4 linked regions of the Homo sapiens genome follow. The protein of the gene in region 3 purifies or fractionates together with the protein of the main gene of each other region. This does not show direct contact. Each region holds a gene or a part of one and is shown on either strand. Other genes may lie near its edges.

What was found. Proteins that work in one complex are often made in the same cells at the same time.
Region 1: the proteins of DCAF4 (region 3) and FDFT1 purify together in Homo sapiens (affinity purification with mass spectrometry; one large-scale study listed by BioGRID and IntAct). This does not show direct contact.
Region 2: the proteins of DCAF4 (region 3) and PYM1 purify together in Homo sapiens (co-immunoprecipitation; one large-scale study listed by IntAct). This does not show direct contact.
Region 4: the proteins of DCAF4 (region 3) and LRRTM2 purify together in Homo sapiens (affinity purification with mass spectrometry; one large-scale study listed by BioGRID and IntAct). This does not show direct contact.

The regions. Positions count from the first base shown.
Region 1 is NC_000008.11:11,829,430-11,833,740, reverse strand, and holds part of FDFT1 (squalene synthase), read right to left. Parts: intron 3,498-4,311; coding exon 3,321-3,497; intron 2,224-3,320; coding exon 2,071-2,223; intron 1-2,070. UniProt on the Homo sapiens protein: Catalyzes the condensation of 2 farnesyl pyrophosphate (FPP) moieties to form squalene. Proceeds in two distinct steps.
Region 2 is NC_000012.12:55,917,895-55,922,205, forward strand, and holds part of PYM1 (partner of Y14 and mago), read right to left. Parts: intron 1-4,311. UniProt on the Homo sapiens protein: Key regulator of the exon junction complex (EJC), a multiprotein complex that associates immediately upstream of the exon-exon junction on mRNAs and serves as a positional landmark for the intron exon structure of genes and directs post-transcriptional processes in the cytoplasm such as mRNA export, nonsense-mediated mRNA decay (NMD) or translation.
Region 3 is NC_000014.9:72,956,704-72,961,066, reverse strand, and holds the end of DCAF4 (DDB1- and CUL4-associated factor 4), read right to left. Parts: intron 2,456-4,363; coding exon 2,262-2,455; 3' UTR 1,364-2,261; downstream 1-1,363. UniProt on the Homo sapiens protein: May function as a substrate receptor for CUL4-DDB1 E3 ubiquitin-protein ligase complex.
Region 4 is NC_000005.10:138,872,536-138,877,445, forward strand, and holds the start of LRRTM2 (leucine-rich repeat transmembrane neuronal protein 2 precursor), read right to left. Parts: upstream 2,801-4,910; 5' UTR 2,377-2,800; coding exon 2,373-2,376; intron 2,022-2,372; coding exon 475-2,021; 3' UTR 1-474. UniProt on the Homo sapiens protein: Involved in the development and maintenance of excitatory synapses in the vertebrate nervous system. Regulates surface expression of AMPA receptors and instructs the development of functional glutamate release sites.

The sequences.
Region 1 (4,311 bases), on a different chromosome or scaffold from region 3:
TCCTCAACTCGGCCGTCACATTGCAAAAGCAGCCACAGAAGACAAAGAAGCAAATGGGTGTGGCTGTGTTCTGATAACATTTATTCACAAAAACAGGGCTCAGCCAACTGTAGACTGCCCACCCTCGCCCTCAAACTATGAATTACAACCAGGATTTAATCCCAATAGTTAAGGAAAAACCAAATAAATCTGAATTTTAATATAGTAATGGAATTGGCCACAAAGTGTTTAAAAACTGGTTTCTAAAACTAGTGATCAAACTGCAAAACCAAAACACTCTCAACTACTTACTACATAAAATGTTTCTAGTTTATATAAAATGAATAAATAGTGCTTAATATAGCAGGATTCCATTTAGAAAGGGTAGTTGAACCCCTTAGAATTGGGGTTAACATCATGGATTCTGATGTCAGACAGACCTGGGTTCAAATTATGACCCTAGCCATGAGGCTGGGGCCTCAAGTTTCCCTGAGATTACTCCTACCCACCTACTTGGTCACTACCCCAGGCACATAGATCAAAGTAAGTTCTGGCTACATGGCAAAATGGAGAGTCTCATTGGTAGCAATTTTTTGGGTCACTGGCTGAATATTTTCATCTAGTGACTACAAAATTTTAGGGTTTTTAAAAGCGATGTGGTCTTCCCTTAGACTTCCATAGGTGCCTCTGATAGAAGTTCTGGACATACAGCATTTCTGTGTCAGATAAAGGTAGGGAGGAAGTATAAGAAGAATGTGCAATATGCAAGAGAAATCAGAAATCGCTATTTTGTATAATTCTATTTAGATGAAAACACTGTTGCAAACCATATTCCTGTAAACGCGTAACAGGGGGACTAGACGGATGCACAAAACCATGAACAGAGGTAACCTCTGGGGAGGGAGCTCAGGCAAAGGAAAAATGATGAGGGTCTTGTATGTTTTCATAAAGTCTACAGTGTTTCATTCTCAACAGGATCACACCTGAGGATCACAGCATCATCCTGGGCCTCTACTCACCAGATGCCAGTAGCACCCGATTCCTGCCGGTTAGGACAATCAAAAATGTCTCCAGACATTGTCCAATGTCCTCTGGGGGGAGGGGAGCAAATCACCTCCATTTACAAACCACTGCTCTAGGGCCTAGAGATTATTAGAGATTACAAAGACTTCTGGTCTCTAAGACTTTTTTTTTTTTTTTTTTTTTTTTTGAGACAAAGTCTCACTCTATCACCCAGGCTAGAGTGCAATGATGAAATCACACAGCTTACTGTAGCCTCGACCTCTCAGGCTCATGTGATCCACCTGCCTCAGCCTCCTGAGTAGCTGGGACCACAGGCGTGCACCACCATGACAATTTTTAAATTTTTTGTAGAAATGGGGTCTTGCTATGTCGCCCGGGCTGGTCTTGAATTCCTGGCCTCAAGTGATCCTCCCACCTTGGTCTCCCAAAGTGCTGGGATTTCAGGAGTAAGCTACTGTGCCTGGCCAGAAATAAACTTTTTGAACCTAGTCAAATATTAGAGATTTGACCTAAGAAGGTAAGTTTTCTTTTTATAGGATGGTTTTGGTATTTGAAATGAAATTTTCCAAAGAAAATTTAGGAAATAATTGCAACTTGATGGCTTTCCTTGGCCTAAATTCCCTACTGTGATTTTTCAATTGAGGCCTGTGGCATAATGAAAGTACCAGACTGGGTGTCAGGACACATGGACGGGAGCCAGAGATCCACTCAATCACGCACTGCATCAGCACAGACAAGCTTCAACCTCACATTCCTCACCAGCAACAAGAAGCTTGGTTGGCCTCCTGCATCATCTTGCAGCTCAAAATCTATGATTCTACTGAGGGGCTCCAACCTACAGCCTTGCTCCATTTATCTCCTCTCACCAGGGTACTACACAGCAGTGAGCAATCTGCTCGGCTCCTGTGAATAGACTTTTTTCCTTATAAAGGATATCAATTCCTGTCTCTTTAGGCCACAGGATAGTGAATTGTTAGGATCATCTAATATCCAAACCTGGTTAAACAGTGACATTACTAAATCATAAAAGTAGCTACAAATTATCCAAGTAGTTAAATAAAAACCCACCTCTTCCATATACTGATATATGATGGCTTTGACAGCTGGCATATTGGTGGCATCCATCATCAGGGTCACTGCTTGCCCTTTCCGAATCTTCACTGCCCCTTTGAACACCTGCTGGTTATTATAACAGGCAGCCAAAGTGGCAATGGCCATCACCTAGAGACAACAAGAAGAGAGGGAAAAAAGAAGAAATGATGTCGTTAGCTATCATTATCACAAAAAGGTAAGAAAACCTTCTGTTGAATGGGCAATTGCTAACTGCTAATCAACTAAGATGGAATCGCTCAAGAAAAAATACCCACGAAGAAAGTATGTCAAGATTTTTACCTTCCCCACTCCTCCCTTTCTCAACAACACACAGAATTAAGCAGTCTAAAACAATTCTATAATGTAGCCACAAAAGTTCCATTTTATTTGGAAAAAGCAAACACAAGTAAATCCAACATTTTCCATGCTAGAGCAATGGATTATCGGATCGGAAATATGTATTTCAAAATAATATATGGGAAGAATTTTCTATTGTAGTTGTTTTTCTATTTTTCCTACAACAAACATAATCATTATATATTTAAAACCAATGCCAGGGGGAGAACAACCAGAAGGGGATTAATTTCCTGTGCTCAAAGGTAAAGTATTTCTAGGTAAATGGAAACATAAGACGGCGATACAGATTTTACTTTCAACCACCATTCGAAGTTGGTCATTAGAACAAGATCAAACCAAGTTCCCAAATCAGTTAAATGCTGTTACTTTCTTCACTTATTTGCAGTAGTATCTGCAATACTTGGTAAAGGCAACTAAAAAGTGTAAGTTCCTAGCATACTGAGAGGCTAGGTCTACCGGACCAGGTTCTTTTTATGCCGGGTCTAGGAAAAGGACAGCAGTAATTAGGTGCTTAATGAAGACTTTTTAATGATAACAGCTTCACCCAGGTTTTACCCAGCACTCCCCATAAATCTAAGCCAAAGACCTTGACTTAACTGTGAGGAAAAGAACCTAACTAGTTTAGGATAGCTGTAGAAAATAGTAAATCCAGAAAGAAGGTTCTGAAAAGGAGCAGGCTTAACCTCAAGGCTGAGCTGAGTTTGGTGGCTGGAAGCAAAGGCGGGTGCTATGAAACTCCCAGCGTAATAAACTGGAGTCATCGTCTTTTTAAGGAATCATATCCTTGAATATAGCACAGCAAAATCCACCCTTACTCCTACCCCACTCCCTTTAGCCCCGTATCCACCCAGAGGAGCCCCCTTCCCTACCTGTGGAATAGCACAGAAGTTAAACACACTCTGGTTTCTGAGTCTCGAAAGGTAGGTGATGACATCTGGGATGTGGTGCAGTGCATTGGTTATAAGTTCATTCAGGCACTGCACGGCCAAGTCAATATTCTCCGGCTTAGCAAAATCCCCTAACTTCTTAACATACCTGCTCCAAACCTAGACAGATAAGAAGATTAAGGAACAGGTCAGCGTGTGCATAGGGGAGAATTTACAAACAATATTAAAGGGTCTTTGTGCATAAGAACTATGATACAGGCTGGGCGCCGTGGCTCACGCCTGTAATCCCAGCACTTTGGGAGGCCGAGGAGGGTGGATCACGAGGTCAGGAGTTCAAGACCAGCCTGGCCAAGGTGGTGAAACCCTGTGTCTACTAAAAATACAAAAACTAGCCGGGTACGGTGGCAGGCGCCTGTAATCCCAGCTACTCAGGAGGGTGAGACAGAAGAATTGCTTGAACCTAGGGGGCGGAGGTTGCAGTGAGTCAAGATCTCGCCATTGCACTCCAGCCTGGGTGAAAGAGTGAGACTCCGTCACAAAAACAAAAACAAAACAAAACAAAAAAAAACACTATGATATACAGTAAAGTCTCTTAGCTGCAGACTCATCTTTCACGAAGATCAAGTTCATTTTAAGCTCCATGCAATAGCTATTTCTGACTACCAGTAAGTGTCCAGTTGCAACCTGGAAGTGAGTTACGTATTGGGGAGCATGTCCCGAGGGACAACTAGTGCAACACTGCACTACTTGGACGAATTCAGGCTAAAGAGGCTCCTGTTAGAGCTACTGGCCTACTTCTGAAAAAAATAACCCAATATACAAAAACAGTTATAATTGTACTGCAGACTAAACAGTAAACCTTCTCAAGATGGCCAGGCCTCTAAATAATGACTAACATTATATTCCTACTCTGGTAAGAAAGCTGCTGAAAGGCATAGCTGGGAAATGAGCTGAGTCTATCCTCTAAGTGTAT
Region 2 (4,311 bases), on a different chromosome or scaffold from region 3:
GGTTGTAGTGAGCCAAGATCACACCACTGAACTCCAGCCTGGGCAACAAAGCAAGACTCCATCACAAAAAACAAACAAACAAACAAAAAAAAAACTTAACTATTGGGTACTAAGCTCACTATCTGGGTGATGGGATCACTCATACCCCAAACCTCAGCATCACATAATTATACCCATGTAACAAACCTACACATTTTCTTTTTTTTTTTTTTCTTTTTTTTGAGACGGAGTCTCGCTCTGTCGCCCAGGCTAGAGTGCAGTGGCGTGATCTCGGCTCACTGCAAGCTCCGCCTCCCGGGTTCACGCCATTCTCCTGCCTCAGTCTCCCGAGTAGCTGGGACTACAGGTGCCCGCCACCATGCCCGGCTAAGTTTCTTTTGTATTTTTAGTAGAGATGGGGTTTCACCGTGTTAACCAGGATGGTCTCAATCTCCTGACCTCATGATCCGCCCGCTTCGGCCTCCCAAAGTGCTGGGATTACAGGCGTGAGCCACTGCGCCCAACCACAAACCTGCACATTTTCTAAATCTAAAATAAAAATGGAAATCAACAAATAGGCCAGGCATGGTGGCTCACGTCTGTAATCCCAGCACACTAGGAGGCTGACGTAGGAGGATCACTTGAGCCCAGGAGTTCAAGACCATCCTGGGTAAGATGGTAAGACCTCCATCTCTATAAAAAATTTAAAAATTAGGCTGGACATGGTGGCTTACACCTGTAATCCCAGCACTGGGAGGCCAAGGCGGGTGGATCACCTGAGGTCAGGAGTTTGAGGCCAGCCTGGCCAACACGGTGAAACCCCGTCTCTACTAAAAATACAAAAATTAGCTGGGCGTGGTGGCACGTGCCTGTAGTCCCAGCTACTTGGGAGGCTGAGACAGGAGAATCGCTTGAACCTGAGAGGCAGAGGTCGCACTGAGCCGAGATTGCACCACTGCACTCCAGCCTGGGCGACAGAGCAAGCGTCCATCTCAAAAAAACAAAAATAAAAAAGGTAGTCCTATCATTTAATCACATTTCCCAAAGCTTTTGTTATGTAAAATACTACTCCCATAAGATATTAAACAGGGGTTATCCCTAAAAATTGTTAAATAAGTTTGGGAAATTCTGGGTTAAACACCAAAAAAGATTTTGCGTTTGTTTTTTTTAACAGCAAGGCTTAAATGAGTTACTATGTTCTTATTCAGGTACATATGCAAGATGGGAATATGGTTTACAGTGTTTCTCAAAATTTGTGCACAGAAACATTATTTGCATTTTATTTTATTTATCTTTGAGATGAGGTCACTGTCACCCAGGCTGGAGTGCAATAGCTGGACCTTGACTCACTGCAGTCTCCACCTCCCAGGCTCAAGCAATTCCTCCCACCTCAGCCTCCCAAGTAGTTGGGACTACAGGAGTGTGTGTGTCACCACACCCAGTTAATTTTTTGTATTTTTAGTAGAGACGAGGTTTTGCCATGTTGCCCAGGCTGGTCTCGAATTCCTGGGCTCAAGCAATCCACCCGCCTCAGCCTCCCAAAGTGTTGAGGTTACAGGCGTGAGCCACCACTCCCGGCCTCTATTTTAGTTATTTATTTTGTGTCACATCTCAGAAGATTACTAGGTGTTTCAAGGATTCATATTTTAGAAAATAACAGCCAATCTTAACAGTATAATTCAAAATATGTCATTTTACCTTAATGTTATATATGCATATGTGCTTAGAAAAACTAGGCTGGGGGCCAGGCATGGTGGCTCACGTCTATAATCCCAGCACTTTGGGAGGCCAAGGCAGGCAGATCACCTGAGGTCAGGAGTTCGAGACCAGCCTGGCCAACACGGTGAAACCCCATCTCTAACTAAAAATACAAAAAAATAGCTGGGCATAGTGGTGCGTGCCTGTAATCTCATCTATTTGGGAGGCTGAGGCAGAATAGCTTGAGCCCAGTTGGCAGAGCAGAGATCGCGTCACTGCACTCCAGTCTGGGTGACTGGAGACAGAGCAAGACTCCGTCTCAAAAAAAAAAGAAAAAGAAAAAAGAAAAACTAGGCTGGGTGCAGTGGCTCATGCCTGTAATCCCACCACTTTGGAAGGCCATGGTGGGAGCACTGCTTGTGAAAATGAGTTTGAGAACAGCCTGGGCAACATAGCTCTATAAAAAAATTCAAAAATTAGCCAGCCATGGTGGCGCATGCCTGTAGTACTAGTACCAGCTACTCAGGAGGAGGAGGCAGGAGAATTGCTTGACCCCAACAGTTAAGACTACAGCAAGCTATGACTGTGCCACTGTACACTAACCTGGGCAACAGAGCAAGACCTTGTCTCTTTAAAAAAAAAAAAGGAAAAGAAAAACTAGTTGCTCATGCCTATAATCCCAACACTTCAGGAGGCCAAGGTGAGAGGATCACTTGAACCCAGGAGTTGGAGACCTGCCTGGGAAACATAGCAAGACCTCATCTTACAGATAATTTAAAAAATCAGGCCGAGCACGGTGGCTCATGCCTGTAATTCTAGCATTCTGGGAGGCCAAGGTGGGCGATCCTTTGAGGCCAGGAGTTCAAGACCAGCCTAGACAACATGGTAAAACACCATCTCTACTAAAAATACAAAAATTACCTGGGAGTGGGGGTGCATGCCTGTAATTCCAGCTACTCGGGAGGCTGAGGCAGGAGAATCACTTGAGCCCAGGAGGTGGAGATTGTAGTGAGCAGAGATCGCACCACTGCACTCCAGCCTGGTGACAAAGCGAGACTCCGTCTCAAAAAAAAAAAAAGAAAAAAAAAGAAAAAGAAAATAACCCTAAATGCCGAAAAAGATGCATGCACAAAAACATTCTAGTGTTCTTATAATAAAAATTCTGAAAACAATCTAAAAGTCCAATAACAGAAGAAAGTAAGATAGGGTGCATGCCCAAACTATAAAACACTCTGCCAGTATTTTAAAAGATGTTTACAGAGTTTTTAATAGCAAGGAAAAACATTTACCTCATAAGGCTAAATGAAAAGGCAAGATATAAAAATGTATATACCATCTGGTTCTGCTATGTTTAAAACAGTTTAGAAAGATATATGCCATATATAACAGCAGACTCTGGGTTGATGAATTAATATTGAACAAAAATTACATAACTAAATTTGCACTTAAGAAGCAGTAATCTGGTAGCAGTGTATCTGTAGAAATGAAACAAGAGAGGGACTGGAAATACGATGACCAGTTTAGGAGGTCACAGTAATATTTGCAGAACAACAGAAACTAGAATTTTAGCAGGCACTTGGAATGGCCCAAGTACTATGCCTGGTACTTGGCCATATATAGTAATTTCTTCTAACCCATACAATGACCCTTACATAATAGTAATAATTATAGAACAATGTGTTGGACACTTTTTATGTGCCAAACATGTAAATTACTTTATTTAAATTTTAATACGCATAATAATCCTGTGTTGCAGGAGTTATTCCAATTTCATTGATGAGAAAACTAAGACTTAGATTCCCAAGGCTATATAGCTAACAAGTACTGTAGATGGGATAAGGGTAACAGCAGTAGGAATAAAAGAATGATATTTTGATAACTGATATACATGAGGAGGGCAAGAGAGAAGTAAAAGATGATAATAAAAATAATCATAAAAAAATAAAACTCCCATAAATAAAAAAAAATACTCCCATAGAAATAAAAACACCTAGTGATCAGATCTTAGTTTTTAACATTACTCTTTAGTAAAAAGAACAAGGGCTTCTTGGAGAAATGGCAGACCGCAGGACTGGAGCAGAGAACAAAATCATACCTGCAATGATGGCAAATGTCAAAGGGAGATGGGCCAAGTAAAAAACTAAAAGAGTTCCCAATGTTCAAAACTGGAACATTTGAGCAATAAAGCAAATAAAATAGTATTGGATTATAACCTAACATATAAAATACACATCTATAAGTCCATATTGATATACATAAATTAATAAAGGAAAAGAAAAAAATCTCCTGGGCAGAAAAATGCCAAATAGTGTGTTTTTTTAATTGTTTTTTGAGACAGCCTCTCACTGAGGATGGAGTACAGTGGCACAATCACGGCTCAATGCAGCCTCAGCCTCCCTGGCTCAATCTTCCCCTCTGAGGCTCCCTGAGTAGCTGGGACCACAGGTGTGTGCCACCTTACCCAGCTCGTTTTTTTTTTAAATCTTTTTGTAGATAAGAGGTCTTGCTATGTTGCTTAGGATGGCCTCAAGCAATCCTCCAGCCTCAGCCTCCCAAAGTGCTGGGATTACAGGCATATGCCACCATGCCCAGCCCTTAATCTCTTTTTTTAAGGAGAGCACAACTCTCTACTCC
Region 3 (4,363 bases):
AAAAATAAAAAATTAACTGAGTGTGGTGGTGCACACCTGTGGGCCCAACTGCTCAGAAGACTGAGGTGGGAGGATTGCTCAAGCCCAAGGAGGTCAAGACTGCAGTGAGTAGTAATTGTGCTACTGCAACTCATGCACTCCAGCTTGGGCGACAGAGTGAGACCATGTCTCAAAAAAAAAAAAAGGTGGGGGGGGCCTGACATACAGTAGGTGCTTATTAGCTAGTATCAGGGAGTACTGTGCCACCATCTGCTTGTGTATGTGAAGAAAAGCTGGAAAGATGCAGTCCCTGGGCCTCTTCCCCTCAACCAGGCTTTGCTATGGCCCAGGAACCATCATGAGGCTGGAAATGGAGGCAGCACTTGCCTGTCTCTGCCCAACTTCTCCTGTTGAGGTATCTCTGTCCTTTCCTGAAGATGTGGAGGATGCATTCTACTATCCAGCCATCCCTTCCTGTGCCACCATGATCCTGAATGTGGGAAAGAGAATACAGAAGACTGTCAGCCACAATGCTGAGGGGGCACAGTGCAAACTGCCCTGGGGTTTGCTGGTGGGAGAAGGAAGAGGTCAGAGCCTTAGATAACTGGGGCGGACGGATTAAATATATTTAAGAATCGGGCCAGGTGCGGTGGCTCAGGCCTATAATCCCAGCACTTTGGGAGGCTGAGGCGGGCAGATCACCTGAGGTCAGGAGTTTGAGGCCAGCCTGACCAACATGTAGAAACCCCCATCTCTACTAAAAATACAAAATTAGCCAGGCGTGGTGGCACGCGCCTATAATCCAACCTACTCGGGAGGCTGAGGCAGGAGAATCACTAGAACCCAGGAGGTGGAGGGTGCGGTGAGAGCGCCATTGCACTCCAGCCTGGGCAACAAGTATAAAACACCATCTCAAAAAAAAAAAAAAAATTTGGTTCTTTATAGAATATGCTGTATTAGTCAGGGTACTGGCAGGAAACATTCAAGTGGGTAACTGCGAGTCTACCTAGTGAGGCATTCTGGGCCAGCAACAGTGAGGTGTGATGACCAGCTGTAGGTCTGAAGGGACAAATGAAGAGTTGCTGGAACCCGGCTCTCTCTGAGCGCTTTCCAATAGAAGTGGTGGGTTTTGGTTACAGCCACCCACAGCCCAACCAGAAGGGAGCCGGGGAACCACTCCCTCTCCTCTTGCCCTCTGTGTTCTACTGCTGCTTCCCACTGGCTGAACCTACCTAGCTGCTGGGAGCCAGGGAACCCTGACCTAGTCCAGAGGTGAGTCTTTTGGGCATGCACAGAGCAGGGTGGAGATGGACAGATGATGAGGGCAGAGTGGGTCTGGAGGGGCCCAGGGAAGCTCTCCAGGAAGGCTATGAAAGCTGGTCCCAGCAGCCCAAGCTCATGATCTCCTAAGTCATTCACAGAAGTGCATGTCACACCATGATTCTTCTCTTGGTTTTATTGTTTGGTAGAAAAACAGGCTCTTTAACACTGAATAAACATCTCACGAACTGTCGCTCCTAGATTACAAAAAGTCAAAACCAATTTCCTTTGACGCCGGGCCCTTGAATCTGACATTCAAGTCACCGTAATAGAAACCAGAGCTGCTGAACCTTACATTCTGGAAGGTGCTTGAACAAAGGCATGTTAAGGACCGTTTAAAACTTCTAGCATGTAAGAAGATCCATCTTTCCTTCCAACGCCTTTGGATAATAACAGCAGAATCCCGGAGATCTGCTGCTGAGTTTGAGAAGGCCAAGTTTAAGGATTCCAAACTCCAGCCTTCAATATTTCTGCAGAAACTTAGAGAAGTAACCTCCCCGTCCTCTCCGCTGGCTTCCCCAAGTACAGATGCAGGATGCAGGTCTTTCTTCCTGCTACCCAGGCACCGAGGACTCAAACCATCTCACCGTCTCATCACTGGGCTTCTTCAATGGGCTCTTGGAGGAAGAAGCTTTTCGTTTTTGCCAATCTTCAGTCCTTAGAAAAGTCCTTTTTGTTAAGAAAAGGCAGGGAGGGTTAACTAAGTTCTAAGAATTCAATAAGAAAAGGAAAGAGGTACCTTTTATGAAAAGGACTTCCAAGCTCTCTCAGCCAGCAATTTAACTCAAATAACTTTCCTGAGCATCTCCACACGGAACATTCAGCACTTCTCTCCTAGCAGCCAGAGGATGGGATCTGTGTACACTGAGTGTCACTTAAAACACCCTCATTAGATGCAGTAAAAAGTTACGCTTTACTCCCGTAAGTCAAATCCACATGGCTCTGGGCTGTGCCCTGCAGAATTAGCTGTAGGAGTAACAGTAAAGGTCCTGCCCGACAGCCATGAGCAGCCCCGGCGCGCCCCGGGAGCCCCCCAGCCGCGACGAGAAGGCCACACTGGGAATGTCGGCCTTGGAGGCAGGGTACGGGGAGGGTATGGTTCTCAGTAGGCGGGCATCGTGGAGGCTCCAGATTCTCGTGTAGCAGTCCTGGCCCACTAGGAAAGAGGAGAGACACATGGCAGGCTAGTGAGAGAATGCAAAGGAAAACTTACCTACATGTGGACATGGCTTCCCAAGATTCCTCAGGGCTGTGATTTCATGTGAGCCAAAACACAAACTCATTAACGGACAGTATTTCTACGGATAACCCAAGTCGCCCTGTTGTGCTAGAACAATGACAAGATGCCCTGGTTGGCTGTGTGATGCCATGAATGGCTCGGAGACATCCTGGCTAATGTCTGGGTATTCTGCTGCTCTTGATGTCACGGAACGTTCAAGTGCGAGTGTGGCCCACCTGGTCTAGGTGACATGCAACTGATTTCCCCCATTTTTTAGGGACAGGGTCTTGCTCTGTCGCCCGGGCTGGAGTGCAGTGGTGTGATCAGGGCTCACTGCAGCCTTGAACTCCTGGGCCCAAGCCATCCTTCTGCCTCAGCCTCCTGAGTTAACTGGGACTACAAGTGTGTGCCGCCATGCCTAATTTTTTTTTTTTTTGAGATAGGGTCTTGCTGTGTTGCCCCAGCTGGTCTTAAACTCCTGGCCTCAAGCTCCCTAAGTGCTGGAATTATAGCTACCACACCTGGCCTGATCTTTTCATGTTATAGTAAAAGATCTGTCAAAGTCATTACATCCTGGGGATGGGCTAGGTTGACAACTCTCCCCACAGCTCTTTCTGGTTTAATGCTTCAGTTCCTAGGACCGGTTTAAGTCTTCAGGGCTCCAGTTCTGAGGACTGTGACACACAACAGCATGGGTTACAGCAGCCCAGAAACATGATATACACTACTGGAGACCTTCAGCAGGAGAAGAGGACAGGCCTTGGGCAGTCATGGATTTCACATTTGTGATTCTGATCACTTGTGTGGCTCTAAGACCAGAAGTGCTATCTTGGCTGAAGCTGAATCCCGGCTGCAGTTTATTACTGCAGCTGGTAACTACCTGCATCTGCCTCTCAGCAAGGCTGAGCTCTCTCTATCATCCAGCTCACAAGAGCTCTTCTGTGATAAAAACAGGTGAAAAATCGACTTAAAAAGGAGGCGAAGTCCTGGTGTTGATGAGAATAGTAAATAAGTCTATGAATGTCCTAACAAAGTAATGCTTCCTAGCCACAAAAATGTTCCATGGGGTATAAGCCCTTTCTATAGGAATACCAGTAGAGGTGACAATTCTTGAAGACTGAGAACACATTCTGCAGTGTCAGCAGCTACTATTTCAGTGTGAAAGCATTGAGCCTGCACACTGTCTGATTACGCTATAGCCACCATCATCTGTAATCAACTGGTAACTCCCTTCCAGGGGGCTTAGTGGCCAGATAGCTGCTCCTAATCTGCAGATCATGGAGCCACAGGGATGGTAGTAAAGGGGCCACAAATCTTTTTTATTTATTTATTTATTTTGAGACGGAGTCTCGCTCTGTTGCCAGGCTGGAGTGCAGTGGCGTGATATCGGCTCACTGCAACCTCCGACTTCCTGGTCCAAGCAATTCTCCTGCTTCTGACTTCCGAGTAGCTGAGAGATTACAGGCAGGTGCCACCATGCCCAGTTAATTTTTGTATTTTAGTAGAGATGGGGTTTCACCATGTTGGCCAGGATGGTCTCAATCTCCTGACCTCGTGATCCACCCTCCTTGGCCTCCCAAAGTGTTGGGATTACGGGCGTGAGCCACCGCGCCGGGCCGGGGCCAAGAATCTTTACAATGACCATAACTTCTTTTCTCAGCATCCTCTGGTGGAAATGTGAGTAGAGACAACAGGGAGCCCAAGTTTTTGGATAAGATAGTTGCGTGGTGGAATAATGCTGGCCTGATGAAATCCACTCAAACTCCAAACCCAGGCTCCCCAGGACCTCCCCACCTGCCTGTTTCTGAAGTGACGTTTGCCCACTGACATGGGATGAGGCTGTCC
Region 4 (4,910 bases), on a different chromosome or scaffold from region 3:
TTGAGTAAATACCAAATTATCATACAAGAGAACTTTACTAAGTCTCCTTTTAAGCAGCAAGATAGTTGTGGTACATGGGATGGAGAGCAGTGATCAAACAGGTATTGATCTATATCTGTTTCTGCCCAATAGCTTCTTTCTAAATTGTTTTCAGTAGAAAAAAATAGTATATGGAGACCTTAGTGTAAAGGTTTACACACGATTGTATATAATTACATACATTTCTTATTTTGAAGTAAGCATTTTAGACTTTCCAACAGGAGTGCAAATTAATGTGAGCATTGATTCATTTAACACTTAAAATATGGTTTCATTTAAAAAATTAAAAATACTTCAACACTTCAAAAACTAAGTCTCCACTTAGTTTGGAAAATTAGGCTTAATGTCACCATTGGTAAAAATTAGATATGTATTTAGCCTCTACTATGTAAAATAGGTTACTTATCTGATGTGATTTTTGATGATGGGTAGATATTATACTTCACATTCTTTGTATGGCAGCTGCTGACACTTGCACTGTCCATAACCATTAATGATGATGAAGGGTCCTTCATGGGTGGGTTCATATTCATTATACGGTCCTTGGTCTGACATGTTTGACATATGGAGTCGTGTTTGGGATCGGAGCTGCCTGTGGTTCTGAACCATTGAGCACTGCCTAATTCTTCTTAAAGTGGGAGGGCAGCACTTCCTGGAGATGAACACTATAAAAATAATAAAAAAGAAAGAAAACAATAAAGCCATTGTTCCCGTAATTACCCGCTGAGTGAAGATGGCATTGTCTGGTTCAGGAAAGTGTTCCTCGGTAGTAACTGCTATGCCTGCAGTAGTTGGGATTTCTTTGTCTCCCACATGGTAACTTGATGAGCTTATTCTTTTTGTATATTCAGTGGTTGGATCTCTATAAGTTGTAGCCATGACAGTGACAGTGGTTGACAAATTCCAGCAGAGCTGAAATCCATGGACTGCATCTAGAATATCCTCTCCTTGGGTGTGGTCAGGACTGTGGCATAGGATGGAGTGTTCCCACCGACCTTGGAAACTGCCCAGCCAGGAGGCCAGAGCACATATTCGGGCGCTGCATTCCCACAGATTGCCAGAGAGACCAACGGTTGTGAGGGATCTCAGGGAGTTTAAGATCTTGGAATCAAGGCTGTTTAACTTGTTGTTATCCATGAGGAGTATTTTAAGATTGGGCATCGTTTCAAACACTGTCAAGTCGATGGCTTTGATTTCATTTCCAGTCAGGTCTAGCTTTTCTAAAGTGCCCCAGGTCCACTCCATCCCACATGTCAAGTTGCTGATTTTGTTCCATTGTAAGAAGAGCGTGTGCAGACTGCTTAGCCGTAGGAAATGAGCAAAATTAATCTTCGTCAGCTGGTTGTGCTCTAGGTGAAGCTCTCTCAGTTTAATTAATCCTGCAAATCCATTGCGAGCCAAACTTCGCAAACGATTTGTGCTCAAATCCAGAAACTCCAGACTACGACAGTCCCAGAACAGGCGTACTGGGATAGTCCGCAGGGAGTTGGAACGTAAATGCAAGGTCTGCAGCTTCCGAAGGCCATAGAAGAGCTCTGGGTGCAGAGATGACAGCTGATTAAAAGACAGGTCCAAATTTTGCAGGTTAATCAGTTGGGTAAAAGTTGTGTTTGGCAAGTAAAATATTTTGTTGGAACTTAAGATTAATTCCTTAAGTTTATATAGTCCTTGAAAAGCATCTTCTTTTACTGTTGAAATTTGATTGTGATCTAAGTGGAGCCAAGTAAGTTGACTGAAGCTGGCAAATTGATCTCTTTCGAGCTCTGTGATGTGATTGTGCCTCAGGGACAGGCCCAGAGAGCCCTTGTCTGTGGCGTTTGGCACTGAGTGGAAGCCCTGAGAGTCGCAGTAGAAGAGCAGCTTCTCGCAGCGGCATTTGGGTGGACACGCCATACCCAGGGCAGGCAGCATTTTTAAAACCATACTCATTGCATATATTGCTGCCAGCATAGGGGCCCCTAATGGCCACTTGAAATGTAAGCCTGCAGAATATAATTTAAGGAAAACAAGAAGATAGGATATTTTTCAGCAGAACATATGGGCTATTTAAAAAAAACAACCACCACCAACATTATAGCAAAAGATTTCACTGCATATAACTTATTTTTCATTTACTGCAGAAAAATTAACCTTATTGGTATGACTGGACCAAAACTTAAGCCATTTAAAAAGAAGATAAAACATGTCTCTGTCATCATCGATATATGCTTTTACCTAAACCTCAAAATCCAAAATATGATGGTGATTTCCCTCATAAAATGTGAATTCGGTAGCTTATTTTAAAAGCGTGATTCCTTGTTGAATGTACAAGACATATAAATGCACAGACTTACCCATTCTTCTGAGCACATTGGAGGCTGCATTCAGTCGCGGTTGTTAGACTCAACGCAGTGAGTCTGTAAAAGGCTCTAACATGTAGGAGCCTTTGACCAGTTTCCTGTTTTCTGTGTCCCAGGCTTTCCAAGTAAAATTGAATCCACCAGGACGAGTTGTTTTTTCCTTAGGATATCCCTCTGGAAAGCATTGGTTTCATTTTCTGTGATTGCTCTGATCCCTAAATCAGTTTTGAATATAAGTTATTAAATTTCTCCACCTCTAACTGCTCAGCTGGTTAATCAAAGCTTCAGTCTCCTTTCCGCAGCCGTTAGTTCTCTTGGTCTTAACTTGTTGATGGCAGATGGGTGGCTTGTTGCAGAGAAGAGCTCCTGGAGCAGCATGAGTGCATTTACTGAAAAGCTTTTCCGAGAAACGGCACAAGAATGGATTTGCTTATGTGCTGCGACCACACAGAACTGTATATAGGCTGACGTCACCGGATGACGTGTCTTTTGTTTGGGTTTTCCAGAAGCTTTACTGTTATAAAGCACCATGCTTTGTAACAGCATCGGGGTCGTTGCAGGACCCCCTGATTACAATAAAGCGAGAAAGAAGAACTCCTGACTTAAAAACATGATATTCCTTCAGTGTAGGAAGCAGCAGTGAGGTTGTAATAAAGGCTGCATTCAAGAAGACCCATCTGAACAGTGAGTTGGGTTAGCAGAGTGATGATTTTTAATGCTTGTGAGAGCCAGTGTTAGACTGCCGATTCTGCATAGAGAGATCATCTAAATGGGCAGAAGCCTGCACAATTTATGAAGTGCTGATTTAACACCAGCCTATGCAAGGTAGTGTCGCTGCACTGGTAGTTTGGAAAGCTATTCAGTTGCCTTGTTGTCATGCTTGGTTAAAATCAAAGTATGACTATGATTTGCTTTAGATGTGTTGATAAACTAGCTAAGTGGGCTTGGCTTGTTTGTCATCAAGAGCTTAACATTATAAACGAAGAATAAAGGGGGAGGGGAAGCTTGCAAAACAAAGCATGTGGTTATTTTTTTCTTTGAGAATTTCAGGGGAACTCTAAAAAGATTTCTCTTTCTCCTATTTTATAACAATGTTTTGTCGCCATACTGATTGAAAAAATAATGCTGAGTTGATCTTTAAATGTCCTCCTGGGAGGACAAGGCAGGTTGATACAGTCATTTTAATGCACATGCCCTAACAGCAAAGCAGAGATGATTTAGGACAAGTGATACCGTGTAGCTGGATTCTGACATGGCCCCTTGTATTTTACCTCAGAATCTCACCTACTCCATAACTAAAAGCCTCCGCTGGTACTGAGGTTGGTGGTTGTGACACTGAAATAATAGAGCATTTGCACCCTAGTTCCCAGCCACCAAGTGGCTGACTTAACTGAGCCTACTGCTGTTGTTAGAACCTGTCTTGTGAATACAAAAGGTCACTCATGCTTTGGACTGGGATTTTTGTTTTGACTTGATTTTGCTTGCCCTAACTCCAGTTTCTCCCTGTTGAATGGTGTCTTCACTTTTCAGACCTCAGTTGTGGATGTATAGCTCCATGTTTAGTGTTATATAAATGCAAAAGATGTTTCTAGATGTTATATTTTCAGGCCTGACAAAGGTAAGCCCTTTTCTACATCTTGCCTTATTGATTTGACCCAACATACCTATTTCTCCCATATCATTGGCACTTACCCTTTGTGGGTCTTGTCTCAGACCTAAGGACAGACATCTTTAAAACTACTGATGGTGTCTGTGAAACAAGAACATCGTTGGCCTTTTTGGTTCTGAGGGATTCATCCCACTGGGCAGATCTAAGAAGTAATTGTCTTGGGTAAAATTTTTCTGTTGTAGTGTTGTGCTGGAGTGAGAGCTGTGAGACTCCAAGGTCCCTTCCTTAGGGCTCTGTGTAAAGGTGCTATGAAAACTGCAGCAGTGCAGGTGTGTGGTTTGAGTCCTCCTAGAAGTGATCCCAAGGTAGAATTAGAAGTACAAGAGGCAAAAATGCCTACGAAGTACAAAGGGAGACAGAAGGCAGCAGGAATGCTCTGAGAGTCTTCGTACCACAGGGCAGGTCTGACACCTGTGAAGGGACAGAGGAAGCAAAGAAGATGAGATTGGCATTGTGGTTCTTAGACACATTTTGTAGGCTGAATGGAAATTCCCAAGCCAAAGTTGCCAGTGAACAGACTCTTGAGTCCTTAGTAATGAGCCTGCACTAGTACGTCCTCTTTGTTCCTTCTTGCTGGTTAAAGAAGGGAAGGAAACAAGTCCTGGTTTAGACCCGGGGAATGCTACTCCCCCTCTGACCTTAATCCTTCCTATAGTCTCTCTCAATAGGCTAGAACTTCTTAACCTGGTTCCATAAACTGTCTTGTGAAATTTTTTTGCTTGTTCATTTTTCTGTGGATAAGGTTGAGTCCGATTCCTACAGGGTCTCTCACCCTAGGTTTCAGAGCTGCTGTTCTACAGGAACTTGCCCCCAAAAGTTCTAAGGACAGTAGTCTCATAGGAGTGGTCTCTTAAATTTCTTTT